2 separate regions of the Homo sapiens genome follow, and region 2 is linked to region 1. A link means that fine-mapping ties the variant in region 1 to the expression of a gene that starts in the linked region. Tissue or cell type: blood mononuclear cells. Region 1 holds a variant in brackets; the other region holds the start of a gene. All regions are shown on one strand. Distances are between the middles of the regions.

Region 1 (8,174 bases):
GTCTCAAATGCCTGACCTCAAGGGACCCTCCCACCTCGGCCTCCCAAAGTGCTGGGCTTACAGGTGTGAGCCACTGTGCCCGGCCTAATTTTTTTTAATGAATAAGAAATGCAGGCTCTGGAACCTGGCTTAAATCTCTGCTACTTTTGGCTGGGTGACCTTGGTTTCTCTGCTTCCGTTTCATCATGTGTATGTTTGGGGGTGATCCTACTACTGTAACAACAATGGATTATCCAGAGCAGAAATGAGGTGCCAAGCACCCAGCGCCGTGCCTGGCACATAGGAAGTGTCAATGAATTGGTACCAATGATTGATAGTGAGATTTACACCATGAGCCACGAGACATTTACCTACAAATATTAGCCAAGCACTGCGTGTGCCAGACCCTGGGCTGGGCTCTGGGTATAAAGCAGGAAACAGAACAGACCCAGCCCCTTTGCTCAGGGAGCTGACATTCTAGCGCCTTTGCTGTCAGCAACAGCTCACTGTGACTTGCCCACAGCTGCACAGCTAGAAGTGCTTCAGGGGACCCAAGCCTGACCCCTCTGTGGGGGAAGCATATGCTTTTGCTGCCTGTGCTTGGGGTATTCCTGAGGTCCTGACAGACAGTCCCTGCCCAGCCCAGGGATCCTGTGCCTGTCACCTCCAGAGAGGTGGGACAGAAATCCCGGGAGCTCAGAGCAATAAGGGCTGTGAGTTAGTGAGTGACACCCACTACTGGGCTCCAGGAGGGAGAGTACAGGGTGCTGTGCCTCTCTGCAGGGTCTCCAGGGGAGCCAGGCCCACAGCAAGGCCCCACTCACTAACATAGGTCACTTTGGCCTCCCTCCCTCAGGTCTACCTCCTCCCTCCTCTATTGGTGTTTCCTGGGACCATATGTCCCCCAAAACAACTTGTCCCCAACCCTATGTCAGAGCCTGCTTTTGAGGGTGCCCCTTAACAGAGCCAGCCATGGGCCATGTGGGGTGATATATCAGAGGGGGTGGGGATGCCCCTGGCCAGGGGTGTGGGCCCGGCTGCCCTCTGGGACAGCTAGACAGGAGCCCTGTTCTTTCTCAGGAAGGTTCTGCAGAGAGCAAGTGGTCTGGCTGTGGATTCAGTCAGCTCCTGGCTTTTGGAGATACTCCTGGCTGCTCTCCCAACCCTGAGTCCCTCGGGAGGCCATGGTCACCGAAGGGAGGGGGCTGGCTTTCAGCAGGACCATGTGGTTGGCCCTGACCCAAGGGAGAGGGGCCTACCCATGTGGGGCATGGGGGATGGAGTCAAGTACTTCCCAACAAGCCTGGCTGGAGCCCTGCTCGAGGAATGGGGTGCCTCAGGGTCTCCTGCTTCCCACCTGCCCTGACCTCTGGCACCAGGCTCTGTCCTTACTAATAGCCTCTGGACAGCAGGCGGAAGCCCAGAGCTGTGTGGCCTTCCCCGAGCTCTCCGAGGCCTGCCGTGGCTCCCCCTGCCCCTACAGTTTCTGCCTGTGCTTTGTACTTGGGATCTCGGGGGCTTCGTGGCACCAAGGGCCTACCAGGCTTTTCGGGAATTTAGCACTGGGGGCCACAGGGCATAGGGTAGGTAGGATCAGGCACCCAGGCGGGGAAAAGAGCCCTCTCGGACGGCCAGGAAGATGCTGCCAGCCTGGATCCCAATGTCGCGGACGCTCTCAGTTCATCCTTCTTGCCACGAATCCCCCAAATGGCATCAGTAGCCACAGCAACAGGAGCAATAATTATCTCTCTCTATGTGGAGATGGGCTCTTTACAGAGGTCATCAAGTTAAACTGACGTCAGTAGTGTGAGCCCTTATCCAGCATGACCCGTGCCCTCATAAAAAGGGGAAATTTGGGTCCGGGCATGGTGGCTCACGCCTGTAATCCCAGCACTTTGGGAGGCCAAGGCGAGCAGATCACAAGGTCAGGAGTTCCAGATCAGTCTGGCCAATATGGTGAAACCCCGTCTCTACTAAAAATACAAAAATTACCTGGGCGTGGTGGCGGGTGCCTGTAGTCCCAGCTACTCGGGAGGCTGAGGCAGGAGAATCACTTGAACCCGGGAGGCGGAGGTTGCAGTGAAGCCAAGATTGTGCCACTGCACTCCACCCTGGGCAACAGAGCAAGACTCCATCTCAAAGAAAAAAAAAAAAAGGTGGGGGGGAATTTGGACCCAGAGATGTGCATAGAGGGAAGACAAGGAGAAGAGACATGGGGGGAAGACAGCGCTACCGTGCCAAGGAGACAGTCCCAGAACAGAGCCTTCCTGCACAGCCCTCAGAAGGCCCTGTCCACAGACACCTTGATCTGGGACTTACAGCCCCCAGAACTCTGAGAAAATTGCTTGTTTTAGCCACCCAGTCCATGGTATTTTGCCACAGCAGCCCTAGTAGACTAATGCACATTTTTATTGCGATACAGTCCACTCGCCAGGCGTGGTGGCTCATGCCTGTAATCCCAGCACTTTGGGAGGTCAAGGCAGGTGGATCACTTGAAGTCAGGAGTTTGAGATCAGCCTGGCCAACATGGTGAAACCCTGTCTCTACTAAAAATACAAAATTAACTCGGGTGTGGTAGTGGGTGCCTATAGTCCCAGCTACTCAGGGGGCAGAGGTGAGAGAATCGCTTGAACCCAGGAGACAGAGGTTGCAGTGGGCCTAGATTGTAACATCGCACTCCAGCCTGGGTGACAGAGAGAGACTCCATCTTAAAAAAAAAAAAAAAAAGAGAGAGAGAGAGATACAATCCCCATGCCAGAAAATTCATTCATTTAAATTGTACAATTCAGTGATTTTTTATTCTAGTAAAATAGTTGTGCATCCATCACCATGACCTAAGTTTAAAAGATTTTCTTCACCCCAAAAGGAAGCCCTGTACCCACTAAGTGGTCACTCCCCATCCCCTCCCCGCAGCCCCTGGTAGACACTCGCCTGCTTTCTGTCTCCACGGATTTGCCTGAGCTGGACATTTCAATACATGGGATCAGACAATCTGCAGCATTTTGTGTCTGATTCCTTCACTCAGCATCATGTCTTCGAGGCTCATGCACACCATGGCAAGTCCACACATCATTCCTGTCTGCGACTGAATAACAGTCCATTGTACTGATGATCCGTTCATCAATTGCTGTGTCATACAATTTTGTTTTAAAAGGAGGATCTGAAGCATGGCAAATGTTCACATGTGTTAAATCCAAGTGGTGAGAACATGGATATTTGGTATTTTTCCTTATATTTTTCTGGATGTTTGAAAGGTTTTATAATTTTTATGTTAATAAATATCATTTCAAAATATGTATTGAAGGAGAAAGAGGAATCTCCAGGCGCAGAAGGGAGGGGAGTTGTTGACATGCTAAAGAAAAAGATGGGTCTGGTATTAGGAAAACAGCAAAGGATTCCTGAACCTTCTTTCTTGACTTCCTGTTCCGAGTGTCACAGGGACAGGGATGTTACTTAGCAGCCTCAGCCTATGAGCCCCACAAGGGTGGGGACCAGTCTGTGGTATTCTCAGCTCCCTTCCCAGCAGGGCCTGGCCCAGAGGCAGTGCTCAGGGAAGGTGTGGGATATTCCCTGAGAGTGGGAAGGGGCCACCAGGCTGCTGGGTTGGACCTGGCTCCCCAGCCACTGCAGCCTTCCCCTCTCCCAGCCAGCAGGCTCAGCTCCAGCCCCAGCCCCACTTCAGTAACCGCCACGCGCATTGATGGGGAACTCACTGCCTTAGGAGGTGGTCACCCCACTGCTGACCACCAGGGAGGGGCGCCCATAGCCCCTTCTACTTGAGAGATAGTCCAGTGGCAAGCCCAAGGTGAAAGGCTCAGAGGACAGATGTGTCTGGGGACATGGAGTGGTCTCACCTGTCGCCACTGACCCTGTGCC[T/C]GGTACTGGTCCTGGGCTTTCCTTGTGTTTCATTCTCCCAACAGCTGCAAGAGAAGGACTCTAATGATCCCATGGAAAGATGGGCTCCAAGGGGCACAGTGCTGGCCAGATGTCCCATGGCCAGGACCCGAGCTCATTCTGCACACCATGCCCTCCTTATTAACTCATCACACCCAGCAGCAGACCCAAGGCCCTGGGACTGAGACCTGCCTCTGCCCAGGGACTCCCAAGCTCACCTGGTCATCAAGCCTCCACTGCCCTAGCCCGGGGTGGGTTGCCTGCATGGCACCCCGGGCAAGGAAGATCTGGGCCTACCGGATGAGCTAGGTCTGTCAGCCCTTTTGTTTATAGAAGCTTTTGGGGGGCCTTGTGGCCAGGTGTTGAAACAAAGGTGTCTGTGTCTCCATAAGTCCATTTGGATTTCATCCTACTTGCGTAGGATGAAAAATCTACATTTTTCACCCAAGATGATGCCTTATCTGGCAAACACTGTGCCGTGATGGGTTTATAGGCGCTGTGGCTGAAAGGCAACCCTAGCCCTAAAGGAGAGGCTGTTTCAGATTCCCCTGTGAGCTGGAAGTGGTGGGAGGAGAGCAGGCTTCCTTATCCCAGTGTCATGACCAGGCCAGGCCAGCCCTGCACCCTCTTCACCAAGGTCCTGCCTAGCTCTGCTCCGGGGCAGGCTGAGCTGGGAAACAAGTCAGTAAGTCCATAGTACAGCTGGGGGCCCCTCCTTCAGTGAAAAGGCACAATCGTGCTTCTCAGGAACCAGCTTCAGATGGAGCCCAGAGGGGTGGGAGGGAGGGGACTGGTCTCCCCTCCTACCACACTGGCATTCTTTCCTCAAAACCTTGCAAAATATGACTGTGCGGCTCCCTGCTGTGGCACGGCACTTGTGGCATCATCGAAATGCCAGTAGGGGCTGGCACCGGGCTGCCCACGGCCCCAGCAGGCACTGTCCCCGCTCCCCTGGGCTATGAGGAGCTAAGCGGGTGGGCCCCTCCCACTTCGTCTGAGGCCCAAGAATGCTGTCATCTGGCCACCCACAGCTTTATCAGTGTGGCCTTTCTCAGGATTGCTGGGACAAAGGGCGTGGGTGTTTTCAGGACTCCGGCGGATTCTGGGAATGTCTCTGCCTTCCCAAATCGCCAGTTCCCGGAGGAGGACAGGACCCTCACCCACCTCCTCACTAAAGGAGAAACTGAGGCCCAGAGCAGGGTAGGGACTTGTCTGAGGTCATGCCTGCTTTGTTGGTGAGAATCGGACCTTACTTACCATTTCTGGGTCACAGGCTCCTTTGACAATGTGAAGGAAATTCTAGACCCATTACTCCAATGCCCAAGGGCCAGGCCTGCGGTGTTGATGGCTGGCATGGTCTGCTCGGCATGGGATTTGTCTGGAGCCCATGTCCCCCACCTCTGGCTCACTGTGGCCCTGCAGGGCACCCGGTCGTCCAGTGTTTCAGAGGAGCCAAAGAGCCATCTTTCTGTGTGAAAGCTACTCATGTTCAAATGTTGGCAATGCATTAAAAATGTAAAACTAGACCGGGCACGGTGGCTCACGCCTGTAATCCCAGCACTTTGGGAGGCCAAGGCAGGCGTATTACGAGGTCAGCAGATCGAGACCATCCTGGTTAACATGGTGAGACCCTGTCTCTACTAACAATACAAAAAAATTAGCCGGGTGTGGTGGCGGGTGCCTGTAGTCCCAGCTACTCGGGAGGCTGAGGCAGGAGAATGGCGTGAACCTGGGAGGCGGAGCTTGTAGTGAGCTGAGATGGCGCCACTGCACTCCAGCCTGGGCAACAGAGTGAGACTCCGTCTCAAAAAAAAAAAAAAAAAAAAGGTAAAACTATATATTATGTCAGCCCAATTAAACATCTGTGGGCCAGATGCGGGCTGAGGACCACCAGAATGGGACCCTTGCTCTCGATCCTCTTCCTGTGAAAAAGCGCACACCATAGCATGGGCCTGGGAAGCTCATCACCCAGGCAAGAGGCCTGTCACCTGAAGCTGGTGGCCATGCGGTTTCCGTGACAGGCACTGGTGGAGTTGACAGAGTTCTGGACAAGGAGTCGCAGGCTGGCCGTCAGGCTGGCTTGCCCAGACTTGCCATGAGGAACTCCACAAGCATCTCTTTCCAGTTGAAGAGCCTGGAGCCCAGAGTGGCCGAACAAGCTGGCCAGGCCCCCCGCCGAAGGAGTCAGGGAGCTGGGAGGAGGTGAGGTCAGAGCGGAGGTGGCTCATCACTCCGGGCCGTGGCTTGAGGAAGCAGAAGAGGGTGGGATCCAACTTTGTTCCTGCACTTGGCCCTTAATTTGTTGAAGCTCAGTGGTCAGTTCACATCGGGGGTCAGAGTGACTCTGGGGTGCGAGATGACTAAGTACCCACAGGGCCCAGGCTGGGGACACAGCCTTCCCAAGGAGTCAGACACAGCCAATTCTCACTCCTGGACAGGGAGGTGAGCACAACATACCAATAACAAGCTCTGGGGACCCTGGATAGGGGGCTGGGCCGCCTGGCCTTTCGCCTGCTGCCCAGTTGTGTGTGAGAGGCAGTAATCACCTCCCTGGTTCAATTTCCTTCTCCCTTCCCACCCAAAGTTTCTTACCTGACAGATTGGGGGCAGTGTGGGGTGGTGAGAAGAGAGCAGTCTGGGACCAGGTGCACCTGTCTAGGTACAATTCTGGGCCAAGGGACCTTGGGCCATTCCCTTCCCTTCTCTGAACCTGTTTCCTGAAGTGTTAAGTGAAAAGGGGCAGTGGAGAGTGGGGCACGAGGTCACCAATGGAAAGCCACGTCTGGGCCACTTCACGCCCTCTCCCCTTCCCAGGTGCCCTGCAGTGAAAATGGTCACATCCCAGCTGTCGCTCTCCCTTCCTGTGGTCCAGATCCCAAGTCCTGACTGCAGAGTCTGCTAAAAACACAAATCGAGTCTGGCCACCTTCCACCTCACCCTCTCCTCTTGGCTCCTCCATGCCCCCAGAACCACACTTGGTTGCCCCCATGGCTTCCTGGCCCTGAGGCCTGCTCCCCACCCCCGCTGCCATGTCCTTTCTCCCCACTGCCAGCCTCTGTTCAGGACCTCAAAATCCTCATTCTTTCCTGCCTCGGGACCTTTGCACTCACCATGCCCCAACCCAAGCTAGTCTTTGTAGTCCGCCCCCTCCAAGCCACCTTCCCCACTCCCCCAAAACAACCTCCTCTGTCCTTGGCCCTCAGAGCTGCCCATGGAGCTGCCACCATCCCCCTGCCTTGAGTTCCCATCTCCCTGTGTGCCCACTTGGTTCTCATCTGCCCCCTGCCCCACCAGGATGGAAGATCCATCAGATTAGGCAGCAGACCCCTCCTGCCCGTCCCATGTCCCCAGCTGAACTGGAATGTTCAGCAACCATGAATGAATTCTGGAATCTATATTGGGCCTTAGACAGGCCAAACACTCTGTCCTGGGCTGTGGCCCTGGGCAAGTCTGGTGTGAGCCCTGTCTAGGGAGGGGCCCTGGAGGGGGAAAGCTGCCTGATGGTCCTCGCCTGAGGACACCTGCCCCTGAGCGTGGATATGGGCCCTGAAGCTCTGTACCCGGCCAGACAGGTTCGACAGGATTGCTGTGGACAGAACTCACTCAGCCTCTGTTCAGAACAGCGTGTCCCTCACCTGCGGGAGGTCTGAGGGCTCCTGGCCCAGGAGGTCTGGCTGAGCCTCTCTCTCCCTGGCCTGGGGACTCTTCCTCAGCCTCCCTGGCCTTCAGGGCCCACCTCACCATCCTCCAACAACACCTACCAGGAGTCTGCGATGCACAGGGGCTCTGCCTGGAGTTGGGGGTTCAGCGGTGAGCAGGAAGGATGGATCCCAACCTTTTGTGGGAGTCATAGTTCAGGAACATCAGGTGACATCGAGTGGCTAGGGCCTGAGAGTGGGGATACATGTATGTCTCTGGGAAGAGCCCTGGCTATGGTGGGCTCCCCCGACCTGAGAGGAGGATCTGAGCGTATGTGGAGGGGTCCAGAAAACACCAGTTGCTGAGTCAGGAAATGAGGCAGGAAGTGAGGCAGGCAAGAGAAAGAGCCGAGGCAGGCTGTGCCAGGGAGCACTCTGGGCACCTGAACCTCCATCCCTGGGGGAGGATCCCTTCCTGGCGGGGTGGAGGGGGTGACAGGGAGCGCTGTGGGCACATGGAGCTCCCTCCCTGGGGGAGCAGAACATACCTCAGAGGCTCCCCAGCCCGGCCAGCCAGCTGGGGTGTTGAACCCAACTCTCACGGGCATTGGCTGCCAGCAGTTCTGGGTTGATGGTGATGGAGCTGGTTCTGCGGTTCCCCGT
Region 2 (8,174 bases), 20 kb before region 1:
TTTAACTGTATATTTGAGCTGGGCACAGTGACTCACGCCTGTAATCCCGGCACTTTGGGAGGCCGAGGCAGGCGGATCACGAGGTCAGGAGATCAAGACCATCCTGGCTAACACAGTGAAACCTCGTCTCTACTAAAAATACAAAAAATTAGCCAGGCATGGTGGCGGGTGCCTGTAGTCCCAGCTACTCGGGAGGCTGAGGCAGAAGAATGGCATGAACCTGGGAGGCGTAGCTTGCAGTGAGCTCAGATCGCGCCACTGCACACCAGCCTGGGCAACAGAGCGAGACTCCGCCTCAAAAAAAAAAAAAAAACTGTATATTTGGGTCCGTATGTCGCTGAGAAATGCACAGGAAAACTGGAGGATAAATGACACTCTGTGAACAGGGGCCTGGAACAAGTAATAAAGGACGGTCACTTATCACTTATCCCAGATTACTCCAAATTTCCGTGAGGAGGAAAAGGCAAAGAACTCCACTGCTCCAAGCCAGCATTCTCAAGGCACCTCCTGCAACATAACTATCCCTGACATTATTGTCCTCATCATGTGCTCATGGTGTGGCCACTGTAGACCCTGAACAGGAGTAGGGGAACTAACATTGGCTTCAGAATCCTGGCTCCATCCCTGAACTGGGCAAGTCACTTCCCTTCTCTGGGTTTCAATCTTCTCACCGGTAAGAGGAAGTGGTTACATTAGCTGATCTCCAAGTCCCTTCCAGGTCTGATGCCATAATACAGTCCCTGCAAGAGGTTTCTGTGCCTCTCTAGGGGAAAAACAAACAAACAAAACCCACAGCTGAGGAAATAAACCTCAAACCAAAAGGCTCAGAGAAATGTCTGCTCCTGGGAAGATGACATCTCCAGAGCAAAAGCCGGCCAAGGCTGCCCACCACCTCCCTGGGCCCAGTATCCTCTCCTCTTAAGGAGGGAGTGGCCTCGATGGTGGCTGATGTATCTTCCAGCTTTGACGGTCTAAAATAAGCTCCAGGCTGGGAGGGGCAGCAGGAAGCAGGGGCTTGGGGGAGACTGATGGGAACCGATTGGTTGAGGTTTTCTAATGGAGCCATAAGGATGAGAGTGAGAGGGAGGGCCGGATGCAGAGAGCAGCAGAGAAGGCTGTTGGCAACAGCCCTGAGTCTCCCTCCTCTCTTTTCAAGAGCAGTTTCTTCCTGAAAGATCCCAGGAGGTAGAATGCTGGGCTAACCTCTCCCAGCACAAATAACCCCACTCATTATTTCAGAAACTACCATTCCAGTTGTGCCCTGAAGGTCTCAGGCCTGTTTCAAAACCCACAATTCAACTTTGAATACAGTGAGAGTACAGTATTTTAAGTTTGCCTCTCCCCGTGAATCCAATTAATAATCAACAGATTAAAAAAAATCTTAGCAGATTGGACTCAAACATGCAGATTCCATCCTAGTTTATCTAAGCTTAAGAATTCGAAAACAGCCCCTATGAGGTGTAAATTTACCAATTTTGACAGTTGCTTAGAATAACCAGGAAACTTACAAACCTCTCTCAGAACAACCCTTGCCCAGAAACTTCTTAAAGTGGCAGGTTTTTTTGGTTTGTTAAATTGTAAGAGAAAAAAGTTTCATAAAATATCATTTCTTGCTTTTCACAAATGCTCAGTGAAGGAGGTAAGCCAGGGACCAGGATTCCCAATTTACAGATAAGGAAATTAAAAGATACAGAAGTAAAGGGATTTGTTCAAGGTCACACAGCTGGAAGTGACAGCCAAGACCTGAAGCAAAGTCTCCTAACAACTCCTCATCGCATAAACTGTTTCATCCAAAAAAGCATCCAGATGAGAAGAAGGAATCAAGTTCTCCTTTACACTCCAAAACACCCTCCGAGGTAAATGAGTTCTATCCGTCCCAAGCTGACCGTCCTTAAAACCCTTGGTATCTTAACCATCTATGACTTTGCAGCCTTGAGTGTTTCGTTAAGCTTTTGGGGTTTAGATGAAAGGAATCTTTTCCTGGCAGTTGGAAACCTGACCTCAGAGAAAGGCCCCGTGCCCCAGGCCGTAACCCCTGCCCCACCACCCTACTCCAGTCGGCCATGTAAACAAGTCAAACCCTGGGTGCACTGAAGTGGCATTAAAAACAACCAGGCCCGTTCACTCGTTTTCAGTCTAAGGGGTTCTTCTGCGACAGGAGTGGCTACAACTAGGTCACACTGGACTGGAATGTGAAGGGACTTCCCCTGGCTTCATTCAGGAGGCTGAGAGAAAGCTCTGAAGAGGATGGAGATGATGGCCGTGGGGAGGGTACCGAGGCACATCCCAAGGAGGTGCACACAAGGCTCGGAATCCTGGAACACTAGGAGTTCAAACAGCAATCACTGCAGGGGTTCCCAAGGGCCATGGGGGCTGCAGCCAAGCCTCTTGGAGCCTTTCATCAATACAAATTCCCCATCTCCCCAGTCACTCCAGGGCGGGGGCCCCAGAACTCTGTGTTTAATGGCTATGACTCTAATGCACGTTTGGGAGTCATAACTAGTTCAAAGCCCTGTTTGACAGTTAAGGCTGGGAGACAGAAATCAACTTTCCCGAGGACCCACAGGTCTCCTCACCCCTCGGCCAGTGACCAGGGAACTGGTCCCAGCTCCCCGCTAAACTACGGCCTGCCAAACTAAGTTCAAGAACAAGACCCTCCTCGCCAGATTTGGACACCCCTTCACCTCTCTCCAGTGCTTGACAGTGACGATGATTCAGAATCGGGGCAGGCTGCGTCCCACTAGACGGAAGCCCACAGTCCTCCCCAACAATCCGACCCCTGGGCCACTCTGGCTGGACAAATCCAAGTCCAGTCCCAAGCCAGAATCTCAGGGGGGTCCCGTCAAGCGGCATGCAATCCCTAAGCGCTTTGTTCCTACTAAGCGAAACCAGGCACTTTTGAGTCACCCAAAAAGCATGAATCACACAGCCGGGCAATGGGAACGGGAAAGGATGTTATTTTTCGGCATACTCGAGGATTTTCCCTTTGTCCCAGCTCTGTCAATGCACTTCCCGTCCCCGTCCCCATGCCCCAGGACTCGCGCATTTCCCTGCTCCATTTTTATTTTCCCTGCAGCCCTTGGCGGCGCCCCGGCCGCCGACCCGCGGCTCCCAGAACGGAGGTGTCCGGGCCGGCCCCAGTCGCTCACCTGCGTCAGGTCCTCGTCGTTGAGCAGATGCGACTCGCGGGGCTTGAAGCAGTTCTGACACTTGCTCTTGTTGAAGATGTTGGCCTGGAATTTCCTGCACGGGTTCTCCTTGGCTGCCGACATGGTCGGCGCGGCGGCGACGGCGGCGGCGGCGGCGGCGCAGGCCTGGCCGGCCTGGCGCTCCCGGCGGGCTAGGGGCTCAGCGCGGCCGCGCCGCATCCCTCGCCGGCCCCGCCGCAGGCCCGGCCCGGCCTCCTTCCCGGCGGGCGGTTCGCTGCACGCGCCGAGGCTCCTGAGCCGCCCGGGCCTCACAGCGCGCGCGACGCCCAGCTCCCGCCCGCACCGCCGCCGCCCGGCCGCCGCGGGCCCATGGACGCGGCCTCGGGCCCGCTGCTTCCCGCTGCGGCCCGCCTCTCAGGCTCCGGTCGCCGCCGTCCCGGCTCGTCCGCGCCGCCGCAGCTGCCCTCGGCGCCCCGCGGCCGCTGCAAATGGGACCGGAGCGCCTCACGCACTACGGGGGCGGGCGGGCGGGCGGGCGGGCGGGCGGCCGGGCGCGGGGAGGTGCCGGGGCGTACGGGGCGGGGCCGCGCCCGACGCGATCGGCAGCCCCACCGGCCAATGGGGTTGGCGCGCTCTCGCTAACAAAGGAACCTCTGGGCCAATGGCAGTCGGGGGCGGGACCGAGGGCCGCCGAGCGCAAGGTAAGTTGTGCAGGCCGGGAAGGTGGGGGCGCCGGCATGGGACGTTCAGGTTTGGTGGACTGGCGCCGAGGCCGGCCGGGCTGACAGCTGCAGGGCCCGGGCGGGGGATGCGGGGGAAGGCGGAGCCGACCTCAGGCTGCCTCTCTGCAACCCCCTCGCTCCCAGGCTCGCCTTCCCGCGCCCACGCTGTACACCCAACGGAGGCATCTTCCCCAAGCCCAGCTCGGAGAGGATTAGTTTAGCACCTACTGTGTACCAGGCCCCCTCGTAGGAGTCAGTTAGCGTCGGGAAGGGCTGGATACTCCAAGGGCTCGCTCATTAAAGGTTCGCAACCTCTCCTTTCTCATCCCCATTTTACATAGGAGGAGACTGAGGAGCAGAGAAGTAACAGCGGGTAGTATTTCAAGGGATGACTAAGAGAAGATGTCAGCGGACTTGAAGAGCTGTCAGCTCCATTAGGGGAGATGAGCGAAGGCTGACTCTCTGCCAGGTGCTGAGCTAGGCATTCTTTCCCCCATGATGTGCTTGAGGAAATGAAGGGTCAGACACCTGGAGTAATTTGTGTAGGATCACTCTGCTAGGAAGGGGCCGAGCTGTCACTCCCGTCCTCCATTGTCCAGCCTCCTGGCCAAAAGACAACCTGGAAAAGGCTGTCAAAGGCTCAGGCAGAAGGTTGCAGGAGCCCAGAGAGGGGAGAAATGCGCTCTTTAGAAAAATTCGGGTGGCTTCAAGGAGGAGGGGAAGTTTAAGTGGACAGTGAGAGGGTTGAGTGTGGCTGGAAGTGGAGATAGGGGAAGAAGGAGCAAGAGGGATTGGAAGAGGGCTCTATCACCCAGGCCTTGTATTCCAAGCCCAGGCGTGCACATGTCATCCCACTGGCAGCTGGGAGTCATGGTGAGTCTTTAAACAGGGGGGTGAGCTAACCCAGCCTTCACGGAGGAGGTGACATTGGAGCATGTGGTAGTGGCAGCCACAGCAGCTGTCGCTCAGGGAATGGAGGAGGTTTTAGGAGGAGAAGTAGCAAATGCTTCCAGAGCTGTGTACTTTTCCACGGATCATCTGGTAAATATCCCAGGGAGGTGGATTTCAACTTAGTGTAAGAAAATGCTTTTCCTCAAAAGGGAGCTGTGGGAAGGCAGATCAAAGTCCTTTGGCAGCCTAAGGGGGAAAGCCCAGCTCCACCAGGCAGGAGCTCTGTGGCCTCGGGCAAGTCCCTTAACCTGCCTGGTGCCTCAGTGACCTCATGTACAAAATTGGCATTAATTAATTAATGTGAACATTAAATGATATAATGCTTGTTAAGTAGCATAATGTTAATTGGTGAATCTAGGCAAAAGGTGTTTATTGTACTATTCTTTTTTTTTTTTTTTTTTTTTTTTTTTTTTGAGACGGAGTCTCGCTCTGTCGCCCAGGCTGGAGTGCAGTGGCGGGATCTCGGCTCACTGCAAGCTCCGCCTCCCGGGTTCACACCATTCTCCTGCCTCAGCCTCCCGAGTAGCTGGGACTACAGGCGCCCGCCACTACGCCCGGCTAATTTTTTGTATTTTTAGTAGAGACGGGGTTTCACCGTTTTAGCCGGGATGGTCTCGATCTCCTGACCTCGTGATCCGCCCGCCTCGGCCTCCCAAAGTGCTGGGATTACAGGCGTGAGCCACCGCGCCCGGCCTTATTGTACTATTCTTGCAACTTTTCTGTTGCTTTAAATTTTTGCAAAATAAAAAAGGGACGGAAGACTGACAATTCTGCCCTGCAGAGAATACTCAGAAACTGATAGAAGAGGTGGCCACTGGGGAGGGGAGCTGGGTGGTTGAGAGGTGACCTACTTTTAATTTTCATTGCAATCCCTTTTGTTTCTGCTGAATTTAGTATTGTCTGCATGTACAACTTGTTTAAAAATATATATATACATACATATATATATATATATATATATATATTTTCTTTCTTGATGTCCTGCCCATTCCTCAAGGCCACCTCCCTTAAAGTGCTCAGCATGTTCTGCTCAGGTCAGTAGGCACATCCAGCACCTGCACTGGACTGGAGGGGTCCACAGTAGGGGCGCAAAGAAGAGTTTCATTCAGCAACTCAGAGGCAGCCTGCCCGGCAGGAGCCCACACTCAAGCAAGTGGAGACAAACAGAAACAGGAGACAGAGAAGTTCAATCCGGGGTGTTGTGGGGGCCCACACAGGGGCACCCAGCCCCGTAGGCAGCTTCAGGGAAGGCTCCTGGAGGAGGCAATGCCTAGGCCGAGTCTGGAGCTGAGTAAGACCCAGCCAGAGAAGGTGAAGGGAAAGACACGTCAAACTGGGGCACCAATTATAGAGTCTCAGGCCTTGAAACCAAAGGGTGTGTTCATGAACAGAAGCAGCTTTCTATCACTGGGTAGTTCAGAGAGGCAGGAGTGACCAGCATTGAGAGGCACTGGGAGGAGTAGTGGATGGTGCAAGCCTAGCCTCTTCAGGGAGACAGGTATGGTTTTTGTTGTTAATACTATTTCATCTCCATTTTATAGAAGACACACACGAGGCTCAGGACATATCAGGAACTTGCCTGTGGTCACAATTATAGATCCTACAAGTGAAGATTTGAGCCCACACAGGCCAGCACCGGAGCTGCCTGGGCCAGGGGCAGTCATCAATTTTGAATTTTTTTCGGCTGAGCACTTAGGTAAGGGCTGCTGATCTGGAGAATGAATCAGGGGCAAGGACTGAGAGAGCTGCAGAGGAGAGAGGGTAGCAGCCTGACTAGGATAGGGTCAGTGGGAGGCAAGGGAATGAATTTGGAAAATGTTTAGGAGGTAGAATCAATTAGTTGCGCTCCTCTCCAAAACCCTCACGGTAGAGTGGGGTCTTGGTTGCTACTCCATTTCCCCTGTCTAGTTCAGTGCCTGGCATAGAGCAGGGGCTCAAAAACACCCCATGGGGGTGCAGTGGCTCACACCTGTAGTCCCAGCACTTTGGGAGGCCGAGGCGGGCGGATCATGAGATCAGGAGTTCGAGACCATCCTGGCTAACACAGTGAAACCCTGTCTCTACTAAATATACAAAAAATTAGCCAGGCTTGGTGGCAGGCGCCTGTAGTCCCAGCTACTAGGGAGGCTGAGGCAGGATAATGGCATGAACCCGGGAGGCGGAGCTTGCAGTGAGCCGAGATCGTGCCACTGCACTCCAGCCTGGGCGACAGAGTGAGACTCTGTCTCAAAAAACAAAACAAACAAGAAAAACACCCCATGGGTGAATGGATGAAAAGTCATCGTTCCACCTTGTATTGTAATATCTCCTCCACCAGATTATGAAATCCATACCGACACAGTCTGTGTCTCATAACCTTGGCTTCCCTTTCCAGGGGCCTAGAACAGCACTTTGCATGAAGTTCAATACTCAGTGTAAACATGTAAAGATTCACTGGGCTGTATGCTTTTTTCACTGCATTGTGTACACCTCAATGTATATTGTTTATCTCAAAAAAGCAAATAAGCAAGCAAGCAAGAAAAGGCCGCTCAGGTGAGCCCCAAATGCAGGTAAGTCTTGATTTGTGGCTCTGACTGCCATCCTGGGAAGTTTTCCCTGTGTCCTGTTAGGGAGCAGAATTTACACACAGATACCCAGAGGTAACCACTATTTTGATCTCCATCACCATAGATGAGTGGAATCCGCTGCGAGCTATGCCTGGCTCTTCTCATTCAACAGTATGCCTGTGAAATTCAATCCACACGGCTACTGTATATATCAGTACTTCATTCTTTTTCATTGCTGCCTGGTAGTCCCTTGTGTGGAAATACTACAATTTATCTGTCCATGTTCCCGTGGATAGACATTCAGGATGTTTCCAGTTTGGGGCCATTATGAATAATGCTACGAGTATCTTCGTGCTTGTCTTTGGTGGACATAAGCACTTCTTTCTTTTTTTTTTTTTTTTTTGTTTGAGATGGAGTCTCGCTCTTTCGCCCAGGCTGGAGTGCAGTGGCACGATCTTGGCTCACTGCAAGCTCCGCCTCCTGGGTTCAGGCCATTCTCCTGCCTCAGCCTTCTGAGTAGCTGGGACTACAGGCACTCGCCATCACGCCCGGCTAATTTTTTTTGTATTTTTTTAGTAGAGACGGGGTTTCACTGTGTGAGGATGGTCTCGATCTCCTGACCTCGTGATCTGCCTGCCTCGGCCTCCCAAAGTGCTGGGATTACAGGCATGAGCCACCGCGCCCGGCCAAGCACTTATTTCTATTGGGAATACCCAAGACTAGGGATGGCTAAGTTTTGGGAAGTGAATGTTTAACCTGATGGGAAACTGCCAAGCAGTTCTCCACACCTGAGAGCTGGGCTCTCA

Evidence for each region. PIP is the estimated chance that this variant, and not a neighbour inherited with it, causes the effect.
Region 2: it holds the start of MPRIP, and the variant in region 1 is fine-mapped to the expression of MPRIP in blood mononuclear cells (TOPMed, PIP 0.96).

What each region holds. Positions count from the first base shown.
Region 1 is chr17:17,018,077-17,026,250 of GRCh38, reverse strand. No RefSeq gene overlaps it. Among named protein-coding and RNA genes, the nearest start is that of MPRIP, 20 kb to the left of the region's middle. RefSeq lists an enhancer at 5,532-6,479. The variant T/C (reference allele first, on the strand shown) is at 3,856.
Region 2 is chr17:17,037,947-17,046,120 of GRCh38, reverse strand. It overlaps MPRIP (myosin phosphatase Rho interacting protein), which reads right to left and starts at 3,664. Exons shown (of 24, transcript NM_001364716.4): 1 at 3,150-3,664. The coding sequence starts at 3,272. It overlaps LOC124903938 (a long non-coding RNA gene), which reads left to right and starts at 3,796. Exons shown (of 3, transcript XR_007065644.1): 1 at 3,796-3,850; 2 at 4,213-4,340; 3 at 6,364-6,778. RefSeq lists silencers at 1,672-1,966, 3,640-4,099 and an enhancer at 1,778-2,977.